2 separate regions of the Homo sapiens genome follow, and region 2 is linked to region 1. A link means that fine-mapping ties the variant in region 1 to the expression of a gene that starts in the linked region. Tissue or cell type: whole blood. Region 1 holds a variant in brackets; the other region holds the start of a gene. All regions are shown on one strand. Distances are from middle to middle. Region 1 overlaps SLC9A3 (solute carrier family 9 member A3). Region 2 holds the start of EXOC3 (exocyst complex component 3).

Region 1 (5,363 bases):
AGAGACTCCTGGACCCGCGGCCCCTCGAGGCTCACACCTACCTTGCCAGATGGCCCCTCGCCCATGAGATCCCAGCTTCCTCCCAGCTGTGTCGAGTGTGGGATGGAGTAGCCTGTGATCAGTCTGGCCGTCAGGGCCGCTCCTTTGAGAGCCGGGCACACTCCGTGGCTCTGTGGCCACGTCACAATGGTCCCCGCCTAGCATTGGCCAGAGACACTGCCGGATTTCCCTTGCACGAAGCAGAATGTCCTCGGTGCAACTGGCCGAGCCTGGAGGACGTCCTTGCTGCACCTGCACCATGAAGCCCTGGAGGACTCCCCACACCAGGACGTCACCCCTGGCCCTCCCCTGCCCCTCGCCACGCTGCACTCCACCCCTGCCCCTCGCCACGCTGGACTCTACCGTCCTCCAACAACGCTCCTCATGAGAAACACGTGTCCCAGGTATCGCTGTGCCCCCTGGGGCAGGCCGCTCCCCAGGTGACACGGATGCTGGAGGCCTGCGCTCAGCCTTGGGGCCCAGCTGGTCAAAGCTGGGTGCTGCCTGAGGTTCTGGAACAGAGATGCCCATGGCCGGCAGGTCCATCCCATTCCTGGGAGTCCAAGAGAGCTGGGAGGCTGCAACTGATCTCTGCAGACCAGAGGCCAAGCCCTGTGGAGCGTCTCAAGGCCAAACGTGCCCCATGGGAAAGGGTCGACATGGCAGTGCTGGCCCGGGGGCTGTCCGGGCAGTGTGGGGACAGGCCCTGCGAGAGCTTCAGGCATCAGAGGCCCTTGCACAGGCAAAGCACGTGGTGGAGAAAGGCCTGGAACATGCGGTCTGGTGGCATGAGCCCTCCTGGCACGGCCGTGGGCAACTGTCCAGACGGGAAGGCTGCCGGCCGGGGAGTCTGAACGCGGCCGACCCCAGGACATCCATGGGGGCCATCACTGCCCTGGGGGCGGCCGTGCCAGGAGGCCGCGTTTAAAGATGACCTTGAAGGGGATTCGTGTCCTGAGGCCTGAGTTTGGAAGAGGAGAAGGCTTGTGTGGTTCCCGTTCCAACATGGAACTTTAACTCCCTGAACGCTGGTTCTTCTGGCATCTGTCACTTCCTCGGGGTGTTGTGACACTGGCCAGAGGCTGCTGGGGCTTAGGAGCTCACAGCAAACTCGGGGTTTAGTCACCGCAGAGATGACCCTGATCTGTCCCCTCCCAGGCGCCAGCACAGAAACCCCTGGCCAGGCTGCTCTCTGCTGTCTCCTGGGGCCCGTCCGGCTCCAGGGACAAACCCCTCCTCAGCCCGAGCCTCAGCCCAGAGGGGTGGTGGGCTCCGCTCCAGCCCAGCAGAGAGGCAGCAGCTGTGCGGGGGGACTCGTCGGGGGCCTCCCCCTCCCTGGGTGGTCTCTCCCACACCCTCACGGCCCTGGCGTCTCCTGGTCCCTGGACCCTCACGGCCGGGAAGGCAGCAAGGAGGCCCAGTGTCCTCTGAGCCCTGCGGCCGTGAGAGAGGGCAGACTCTCGGGGCCACGTGGCCACACTCAGTTCCCTGAGGGTCCCCTGGAGCCTGGCACCCCCACGTGGCCTCCTCGAGGCCTGAACCCTGGGTTGAATGGCAAAGACTTGTGAAGGATAAGGCTGCATTTCAGTAAAACCTCCCCAGCGAGGGGCACCAGAGCCCACAGGCAGATGCGGGGAGGGAAGCCGGCCGGGAGCTAGGGACCACATGGACCCACGTCTTCCGGGCCCCCTTGCTCCCACCGCAGCCCTGCTCATCCCCACAATCTGCCCCCACACCCCCAACGGCCCTCCCACCTGCCCCTCCCTGGCCGCGCCCCTGGGTGCTGTGTGTCCCGGCTCCGGGCCCGTCCTGGGTCAGCCCCACTTGCTTCTCCTGGGCTGGGACGCCACTCCAGGCGATGGGCCCCCATCCCTCCCCAGCATGCGGTGCCCCTGCACCCACCTGCCTCCGTTCACCCAAAGATGAAGGAGAGGGCCAGGGCCAGGGTCAGTCTGTCTGTCTGTCTTGCTCAGATGGGGTGGCCCCCTCGGAAGACAGCAGCCTTCCCTGGAGGGGGCTGGGGGTCTGTGGGAGGGACGCAGGAAGCTGACCCAGCTCCCCACGCCACCGGCGCCAGCCAGACGGGCTCCGAACCCCGACCCGTAGGCGAGCGCCTCCCCAGGGCCCTCCTCCTCGGGTGGCAGGCCCTGCAGCTGCCCCGCGGCCCGGCTTGTCTTCCAGGCGACCTGCAGATTGGGCTGCTGGACTTCCTCCTGTTTGGCAGCCTCATGGCGGCTGTGGACCCGGTGGCCGTCCTGGCCGTGTTTGAGGAGGTCCATGTCAACGAGGTCCTGTTCATCATCGTCTTCGGGGAGTCGCTGCTGAACGACGCAGTCACCGTGGTGAGCAACGGAGCCACCGCTCCAGAGCGGGCGAGCCGTGGGAGGCCTGGGCCCCGTCTCACCCCCCATCGGTCAGTCAGCAAAGGAGGGCGTGAAACCCTGTCCTCAAACTCCCCTCCCGGGGGCGTCCCG[T/C]CCCTCCACCTCCTTCCTCCCAGCTCAGAACGACTGGCAGCTTTCGCGAGGCTTCTTTGTATCTTCCACAGTTCCCAGGCCCTGCCCGCCCACTCCATAGCTTCAGGGTTAATGATGGCGCTGTTGAAATCCCGCCCTCCTGGTCCCCAGAGCGTCTGTGACTTTGGACCCACAGTTACTGCCACCCATTCCTGAGTTCCTAAAAAATACATGAGTGGCCGGGTGCGGTGGCTCACGCCTGTAATCCCAGCACTTTGGGAGGCCGAGGCAGGTGGATCACCTGAGGTCAGCAGTTCGAGACCAGCCTGGCCAACATGGTGAAACCCCGTCTCTACTAAAAATACAAAAATTAGCCAGGGGTGGTGGCACGCGCCTGTAATCCCAGCTACTGGGGAGGCTGAGACAGGAGAATCACCTGAAACCAGGAGGCAGAGGTTGCAATGAGCCGAGATCGTGCCATCGCACTCCAGCCTGGGTGACAGAGTGAGACTCCATCTCAAATAAAATAAATACGTGAATAGCAAACAACAAAATCCCATAGGAACCACGTAATCTGCCAGGGCCGCCATGACAAAGTACCGCAGGTGCAGTGCCTTGAACGACGGTGGGTGTCAGTGTGGTGGGTGTCAGTGTGGTGGGTGTCAGTGCGGTGGGTGTCAGTGCGGTCTGGATCACGGTGTCAGTGTGGTGGGTGTCAGTGCGGTGGGTGTCAGTGTGGTGGGTGTCAGTGCGGTCTGGATCACGGTGTCAGTGTGGTGGGTGTCAGTGCGGTGGGTGTCAGTGTGGTGGGTGTCAGTGCGGTCTGGATCACGGTGTCAGTGTGGTGGGTGTCAGTGCGGTGGGTGTCAGTGTGGTGGGTGTCAGTGCGGTCTGGATCACGGTGTCAGTGTGGTGGGTGTCAGTGCGGTGGGTGTCAGTGTGGTGGGTGTCAGTGCGGTCTGGATCACGGTGTCAGTGTGGTGGGTGTCAGTGCGGTGGGTGTCAGTGTGGTGGGTGTCAGTGCGGTCTGGATCACGGTGTCAGTGTGGTGGGTGTCAGTGCGGTGGGTGTCAGTGTGGTGGGTGTCAGTGCGGTCTGGATCACGGTGTCAGTGTGGTGGGTGTCAGTGCGGTGGGTGTCAGTGTGGTGGGTGTCAGTGCGGTGGGTGTCAGTGTGGTGGGTGTCAGTGCGGTCTGGATCACGGTGTCAGTGCGGTGGGTGTCAGTGCGGTCTGGATCACGGTGTCAGTGTGGTGGGTGTCAGTGCGGTGGGTGTCAGTGTGGTGGGTGTCAGTGCGGTCTGGATCACGGTGTCAGTGCGGTGGGTGTCAGTGCGGTCTGGATCACGGTGTCAGTGTGGTGGGCTCCTGCGGGACCCCGGTCCTGGACTTGCAGACGGTGCCTTCCCGTGTCCTCACGTGGCCGTCCCTGCGTGAATGTGCCCGAGTCGCCTCCTCTCACAGGGACACGGGTCCTATTGGATCAGGGTCCACCCCGGTGACCTGACTGTGCCATACTCCCCTTTTTCACGCTCACATGCCCAGGTCCTGGGGACTTTAACATGGGAATTTCGGGGGCACAATTTGGCCCATGACAGAGGTGAAGGGAGGGAAACTGAACTGGTGCTAACGGCAGAGCCCGGACGGTGTGTGGGTGTCCCTGGAGGAGATGGTGTTCCGGGAGGCGGGGACGGTGCCTCCACAGAGGCCCAAAGGCCACATCAGCGCTCAGTAAGGCCAGGAGAAGATTCAGGAACCCCAAGGAACATGGTTACTACTTCACAGTGACAATCGTGACGTTTCAAAGCCAATCCCATCAAATGGGGCCACTGCCTCCCGGAAGTGAGTCATGGGGCCATCCGAGGGGCACGTGCAGAGTGGCCCTCCTAGGAACCGTCAGTGAGGCCAGCCCTGGGCCCGGCCCCGACACCATCCCAGCCCCCACACTGCCCCCGCCCCGTGCTGCCCCTGCCCATCCTCCCCCAGCCCCGAGGACCCTGCAGACGCAGCCGGAGGGAAGGGTGGGGTCAGCTTCCTCTCCCCTCTGAAAGTGCCTGTGGTTTGAAAGGTTTGAAACCCGTCAGCCTCTCATGTTCCCTTAGGGGTTTTGGAAAGAGGAAAGTCCTGTGGGTGTCGCACACCAGACGGCAAGATATTCTCGGGGGAATTTGGGAAGTGAGACTTAATCGGGAATAGAGTGACAGCCCCGTGTGCCCCGCAGCCCTGCGGCTCCCGTCCCTGGAGAAGCAAGAGTCTCCCAAGAGGTTGTCTTCCCTCCCAGCTGGATTTTCATTAAAAAGCCCAGCTCCGAGAAGGCCCCAAGAGACCCCGGGACCCTCATGGGCCCCCCACCCCAGCCTGCATTTGCAAACCCAACTTACACGCCTGCCCCAGGGTCCTCTCCCACCTTGGCCAGAGCCAGAGACACAGAGCTGGGTGCAGAGCCAGGTTCTCCCCAGGGGCCTCGGCCCACCCAGGACGGCCCTCGGCCGGTCTCACCTGCGTCACCACTTTGCTGGGCGTGGAGCCCAGGGCGTGGATAAGGTTTCCCCGCATTTTATCTCTGGGTTTTGCCGGGCTAAGGTTTAAAAACATGCAAAGACGGCAGGGGCTAGAGCCAGCACAGCAGGGAAGTCACTCAAACTGACACCCTGGGTTTGTCTCCGTAGATGAGACTCAGAATTCAAGTGGCAGGGAGCTTTGCAGCTGCCCCTGTTTTGCAGAGGATAGGAAGAGGCCAGCTTTGCTCCCAAAGCTTCTGGTCCCCTCCAGAACATTCTTTTGCCCCATGTCTTGCTGGCTGCTGGGCTCTGGGCTTCTCCCCTTTGGGGGCCATTGCCCTGTGATGATTTTCCTTCCAACGGCCTCGGGTG
Region 2 (5,363 bases), 44 kb after region 1:
TCTTCCGCGCTTCTCTCCTGCGATACTGCTCCACCTTGTCCAGCTGGTCCGGGCGCTGGAGCATCCCAGCAACCCTTTGCACTGCTGTCGCAACGGCCTCCCGGTCTGTCTCCTTCATGGTGAAAAAGCTGGTGGAATCCTCACACTGTTCATGCTAGGGGTGTTCTCTGTGCACTGCAGGAGTTGTTAGGACGGTAGAAATGTTAGGTACAAAACCTCCCCCAAACTATCAGGTGATCACAGTGGAGCTACAAGCAGAGCCTCTGAGATCATTAATCCAGGAAACCTCAAAGAAAGCTGAACTAGGATGAGGAACTCCTTGATAAGATAAACAAACCTTCGTAACACAAACATGCAGAAGTTATACCTTTAAGGGGAGAGCAGGGGCGTTTCACAGGCATGAGAGACATGGACATTGCGAAGATTCTAGATGTGGGTCCCAGACCACCCAGCATGTAGATGTCAGCCTCAAAGGCACATCTCTCCCCAAGACAGGGCTGGTTTCTCATTTCGGGAGCTTTCCCCCAGCACCTTGGCCAGGCCTGTGGGCAGCTGCACCAGGACCCTCAGTGAAGACAAATACAGCGTGGACAACTCCCCCGACCAGGTACCACAGCTGGAGGCCCAGCACAAGCCCCACAATTCCCACCCTATAAAAGTGACAATAGTCAGCCAGGCCCGGTGGCTCACGCCTGTAATCCCAGCACTTTGGCAGGCCGAGGCGGGTGGATCACGAGGTCAGGAGATCGAGACCATCCTGGCTAACATGGTGAAACCCTGTATCTACTAAAAATACACACAAAAAAATTAGCTGGGCATGTTGGTGGGTGCCTGTAGTCCCAGCTACTCGGGAGGCTGAGGCAGGAGACTGGCGTGAACCCCGGAGGCGGAGCTTGCAGTCAGCCGAGATCGCGCCACTGCACTCCAGCCTGGGCGACAGAGCGAGACTCCGTCTCAAAAAAAAAAAAAAGAAAAAAAAAGAAAAAGTCATTATTGTCTTGGGTATCCAAAACCCCATTTCCCCCTTTTTTAACTGTCCTAGAAAACATCATGCTTCCCTCCTTTATGCAGGCCCCGTGCAGACCACAGGTGCTCAGATGCCAGGCAAGCCTGCCTTCCATGCTCCCTCCACCATCGTCCTCCTCGGGGAGCTAACACAGCTGCTTGGTGAGCATCAGTCAATGAGGGAATCCGATACACCTGTTCCCCTTGACTTCAGCTGTCTGATTTTCATCTTCATGAATATTAAAAAGATTCACCTTCTCCTGGAATTTTTCATTCTCCATGCCCACATGCTTTCAGACACCTCTCTTCTCCTTTTTCATCTGGACCTACATTGCAACCTTTCCTTTCTCTTTATTTTCTGATTATGAAATTTGGCATACCAACGTAGAAAATCTGGACAGGACAAAAATACAAAGATGCCAGAGGCAACTCCCCTTAAATCCCATCATCTATGGGCAACTCCTCTTAAATCTTGCTACCCAGGGGCAACTTCCCTTAAATCTCACAATCCAGGGACAACTTCCCGTAAATCCCACCACTCAGGGGTAACCCCCGCTATATCCCACCACTCAGGGGCAACTCCCCTTAAATCCCGCCACCCAGGGACAACTCCCCTTAAATCCCGACACTCAGGGGCAACTCCCTCCAACAGGGCTTGTTTCCTTCCAGTTTTTTCCCTTTGAGTTTCTTTTAAAGCTAAGATTCCACTGCTTATATGACTTTGTAGGTGCACACTTTTGTTTTCTTATTTTGTTTGGACATTATCATCAGCATTTCCATTGACATTAAAGCCTGTATGATTTTGATTATAGGGCTGGATAATAACCCAAGAAGTGGACCCCCAGCCGCTCTGCTGGGGCACGCGGTGAGGTGGCTGCGCCCATCTTAAGGCTGGAGTGAAGTCTGTCACGCTGTGGGTGGAAGCCAAGGCAATGTGAGTGGAGAGCTGTGAAGCAGGGCTCGCCTTGGAGTCAGAATAAAGCTACTCATGTGGAAAAGGGGAAAATCTGGAGTTAAAAAACGCACCGCAGAGGCTTCCATCCCAGCCTGAAGACTAAAGATTTTGGGTCACAGAAGCCAAAGAGGAACTCAGAGACCATAAACAGAGACCCAGGTCCAGCCCCTACCAGGGCCTTTCTGACTGCCTTCCCCTGGCGCTGGCTCCGCTGTGAGCCTCTCCGCCGAGCGGGGGGACACCCTACTGCGGGGAACATCAGCACCCACGGAGACACCTGCGCCAGGGAGACACCTCTGCCGGGCAGACACCTCTGCCAGGAGGGACCCTTTACCGGGGGGACGCCTGCGCCGAGGGGAACACCTGTGCTGGGAGGCACCTCACGGAGGGGACACTCCGCTGGAGGACACCTGCACCTTGGAGGACACCTGCACCTTGAAAGCTTCCTAAAGGCCAGGAAGGACGCTTGTGCCCAGAAGGACACCTGCTCCGACGAGGGACACCTGGTCCGAGGGGGGACACCTGTGCCAGGAAGGACAACTGCGCCTGGGGGGGGACACCGTCAAGAGGACACCTGCACCAGGAAGTACACTTGTGCCTGGGAGGGACACCTGTGCTTGAGGGGACACTTGCACCTTGGAGAACTCCTGCGCCGAGGGGACACCTGCGCCAGGAAGGACACTTGTGCCTGGAGGGACATCTGCCCCAAGGAGGGACACCTGCTCCGAGGGGGGACACCTGTGCCAGGAAGGACACCAGCGCCTGGGGCGTGGGGGAAGACACTGTTAAGGGGACACCTGCACCAGGAAGGACCTTGTGCCTGTGGGGACACATGTGCCAAGGGGACACCTACGCCTGGGGGGGACACATGTGCCGGGGAGGACACCTGCGCCGAGGACACTCGCACGAGCGGGATACTCCACGGGGTCCGGAACGGCCTCCCCGCCCTCCAGGTCCCGGTCCGGCCTCCCCCTACGCGCCCCCGCGGAAGCCAGAGACAGGGAGAGCAAGGATGAAAGACGGCGACCACCTCCCAAGGACCCGCCGGCCGTCAGGACCTGCCACCGACTCACCCTCTACGGCTACGCCGCCGCCGCCGCCGCCGCCGCCGCCGCCGCCGCCGCCGCCGCCGCCCCCGCCGCCCCCTCCGCCTTCGCTGCCTCCGCCTCCGGGGTCCCGGCCGGAAGTGGACAGCGCGCGGGCACTTCCGCTTCCGGCAACGGCGCCGGAAGCACGGGTCCGGGCCCTCCCGCGGGGCGGGTACTCGTCTCCCGGCCGAGCGACTTCAGCTCGGGGACCTGCCCCATGGCCGCTCCCCAGCAGGACAGGGAAACCGCCGAGGTGGGGGGCTTCTTGTCCGTCCCAGCCCCCCCAACTCAGGCCCTCTCGCTGCCCCTGGCGACCACCGCGTGCGCCCTTCCCCAGGGCGGGCGCAGTCCTGGACGCCTCCGCCGAGCGTGACTGCGTGCATTTTCTCTCCTTTCCCTTCCCAACCTGCGGAGAGAAGACAGCCCCAGAGCCGCTGTCTCCATCCTCTGCTGATGCCTGCTGTCTTTATGTTGGCCTCGTCGTCCGCACTGCAGTGTGGCAGGGGCGTCCCTCGTTTCCCGCGGACTGAGGTGGGCGCCGGGCATTCAGTAAACGAAGAAACCAAAGCGGAGAAGGTTGGGAATCAAACGTCTGTCATACCTGCCACCAGCAGACAAGCGGCTTTGGGTACCTCCTGGACCCAAAGACGAACTCAGCCCCTCCAGGAGCGCAGTCATTGGCACCCTCGTGGGAACAATGCCAGTGGGATGGGTGGCCACCGGATGTTTCCGGGGCCCCTCAGAGGCCCAGCAGCGCAGGTCTTGGAGAATGAATGTGGGTCACTGGGCCGCGCTGCAGAGGGCCGGTCCTGAGTCGCTTCCTGGAGGAGAGGCCCATGGCCAGCACTTGGCTTCGCCTGGAGGAAGAAGCACGTGCTAAACCACGAGCGTTCAGGGTTTGTCTGTTTGATAAAAGATGCTGGCTTTGACACACCAACTGACAAAGTCTTTCATAGGTTGGAGCTGCTAGGTTGTGCCCCTGCCCCTCCTGAAAATTAGCCACACGAAAGGAAGGGTCTGGAAGGTGGCAGGGAAGCCAGCAGAGACCAGGGAAGTGGCAGCAGCATGGGGCAGGGGCACACAGGAAGGAGATGGAGCTTGCGGGAGCCCCCACTGCCACTCCGACAGGGAGCCCTGCCCCGTGCCCTGCTGATGTTGACACTGACCCCGGCTCTATTATTTCAGTTTTTCCTTGTAATTTCTGAAAATCTAGCAACAAGTTGAGCAATGAAAAAAAGTAAAAAAGTTAAAATTGTGTTAGAAATTATGACTGTAAAGAAATTTTGAAACTAATGAAGAAAAAATTGCCAAAATTGCCAAAGCTTTTAGGACTCTTAAAAATATAGTAACATTGAGTATTATGAACTAAAGACTCATACTATTATATCAGTGTCTGGTAGTGAATTTGGATGGAGGACTGTCTAGTAACTTCTTAACAAAACATTGATTAGAAGTCTTTCTTGGCGGGGCGCCGTGGCTCACGCCTGTAATCCCAGCACTTTGGGAGGCGAGGCAGGTAGATCATGAGGTCAGGAGATCGAGACCATCCTGGCTAACATGGTGAAACCCCGTCTCTACTAAAAAAAATACAAAAAAACTAGGCAGGTGTGGTGGTGGGCCCCTGGAGTCCCAGCTACTCGGGAGGCTGAGGCAGGAGAATGGCGTGAACCCGGGAGGCGGAGCTTGCAGTGAGCCAAGATCGCGCCACTGTACTCCAGCCTGGGCAACAGAGCGAGGCTCCGTCTCAAAAAAAAAAAAAAAAAAAAAAAAAAAAAAAAGGTATTTATTGGCTGGGCGCAGTGGCTCCTAACTGTAATCCCAGCACTTTGGGAGGCTGAGATGGGCAGACCCCTTGAGCCCAGGAGTTTGAGACCAGCCTGGGCAACATGGTCTTTTTGGTAGGAACCCCATCTCTACCAAAAAAAACCCCACAAAAATTAGCCAGGCATGGTGGTGCATGCCTGTAATCTCAGCTCCCTGGGAGGCTGAGGCAGGAGAATGGCTTCAACCCGGGAGGAGGAGGTTGCAGTGAACTGAGATGGCACCACTACACTCCAGCCTGGGTGACAGAGGGAGAATCTGTCTCAAAAAAAAAAGTTTCTTGACTTCTGTTTTTGGCAGACCATGTTCTGCGAACACCCAGGAGCACTGCTGAGTGCAAGCATCATGTCGATTGCACAAGTGGATTCACGAACAGGCAAGGACGTGACCAGGGACAAATGTGGGAAGGGGAGAGGACGTGAATCAGAAGCAGAGATGCTTGCCGTCCTACAGCAGGCAGGTGGGTGGGTAGGGTGCGAGTTCTGCGGCCCAGG

What was found. PIP is the estimated chance that this variant, and not a neighbour inherited with it, causes the effect.
Region 2: EXOC3 starts here. The variant in region 1 is fine-mapped to the expression of EXOC3 in whole blood (INTERVAL, PIP 0.94).

What each region holds. Positions count from the first base shown.
Region 1 is chr5:485,334-490,696 of GRCh38, reverse strand. SLC9A3 (solute carrier family 9 member A3) reads left to right here. Exons shown (of 17, transcript NM_004174.4): 3 at 2,221-2,381. Among named protein-coding and RNA genes, the nearest start is that of SLC9A3-AS1, 15 kb to the right of the region's middle. The variant T/C (reference allele first, on the strand shown) is at 2,514.
Region 2 is chr5:440,961-446,323 of GRCh38, reverse strand. It overlaps EXOC3 (exocyst complex component 3), which reads right to left and starts at 3,148. Exons shown (of 13, transcript NM_007277.5): 1 at 3,034-3,148; 2 at 1-174. The coding sequence starts at 118. It overlaps EXOC3-AS1 (EXOC3 antisense RNA 1), which reads left to right and starts at 3,164. Exons shown (of 1, transcript NR_126522.1): 1 at 3,164-4,489. RefSeq lists enhancers at 2,484-2,573, 2,624-2,753, 3,524-3,633, 3,654-3,703, 5,287-5,346 and 1 more and a silencer at 3,054-3,443.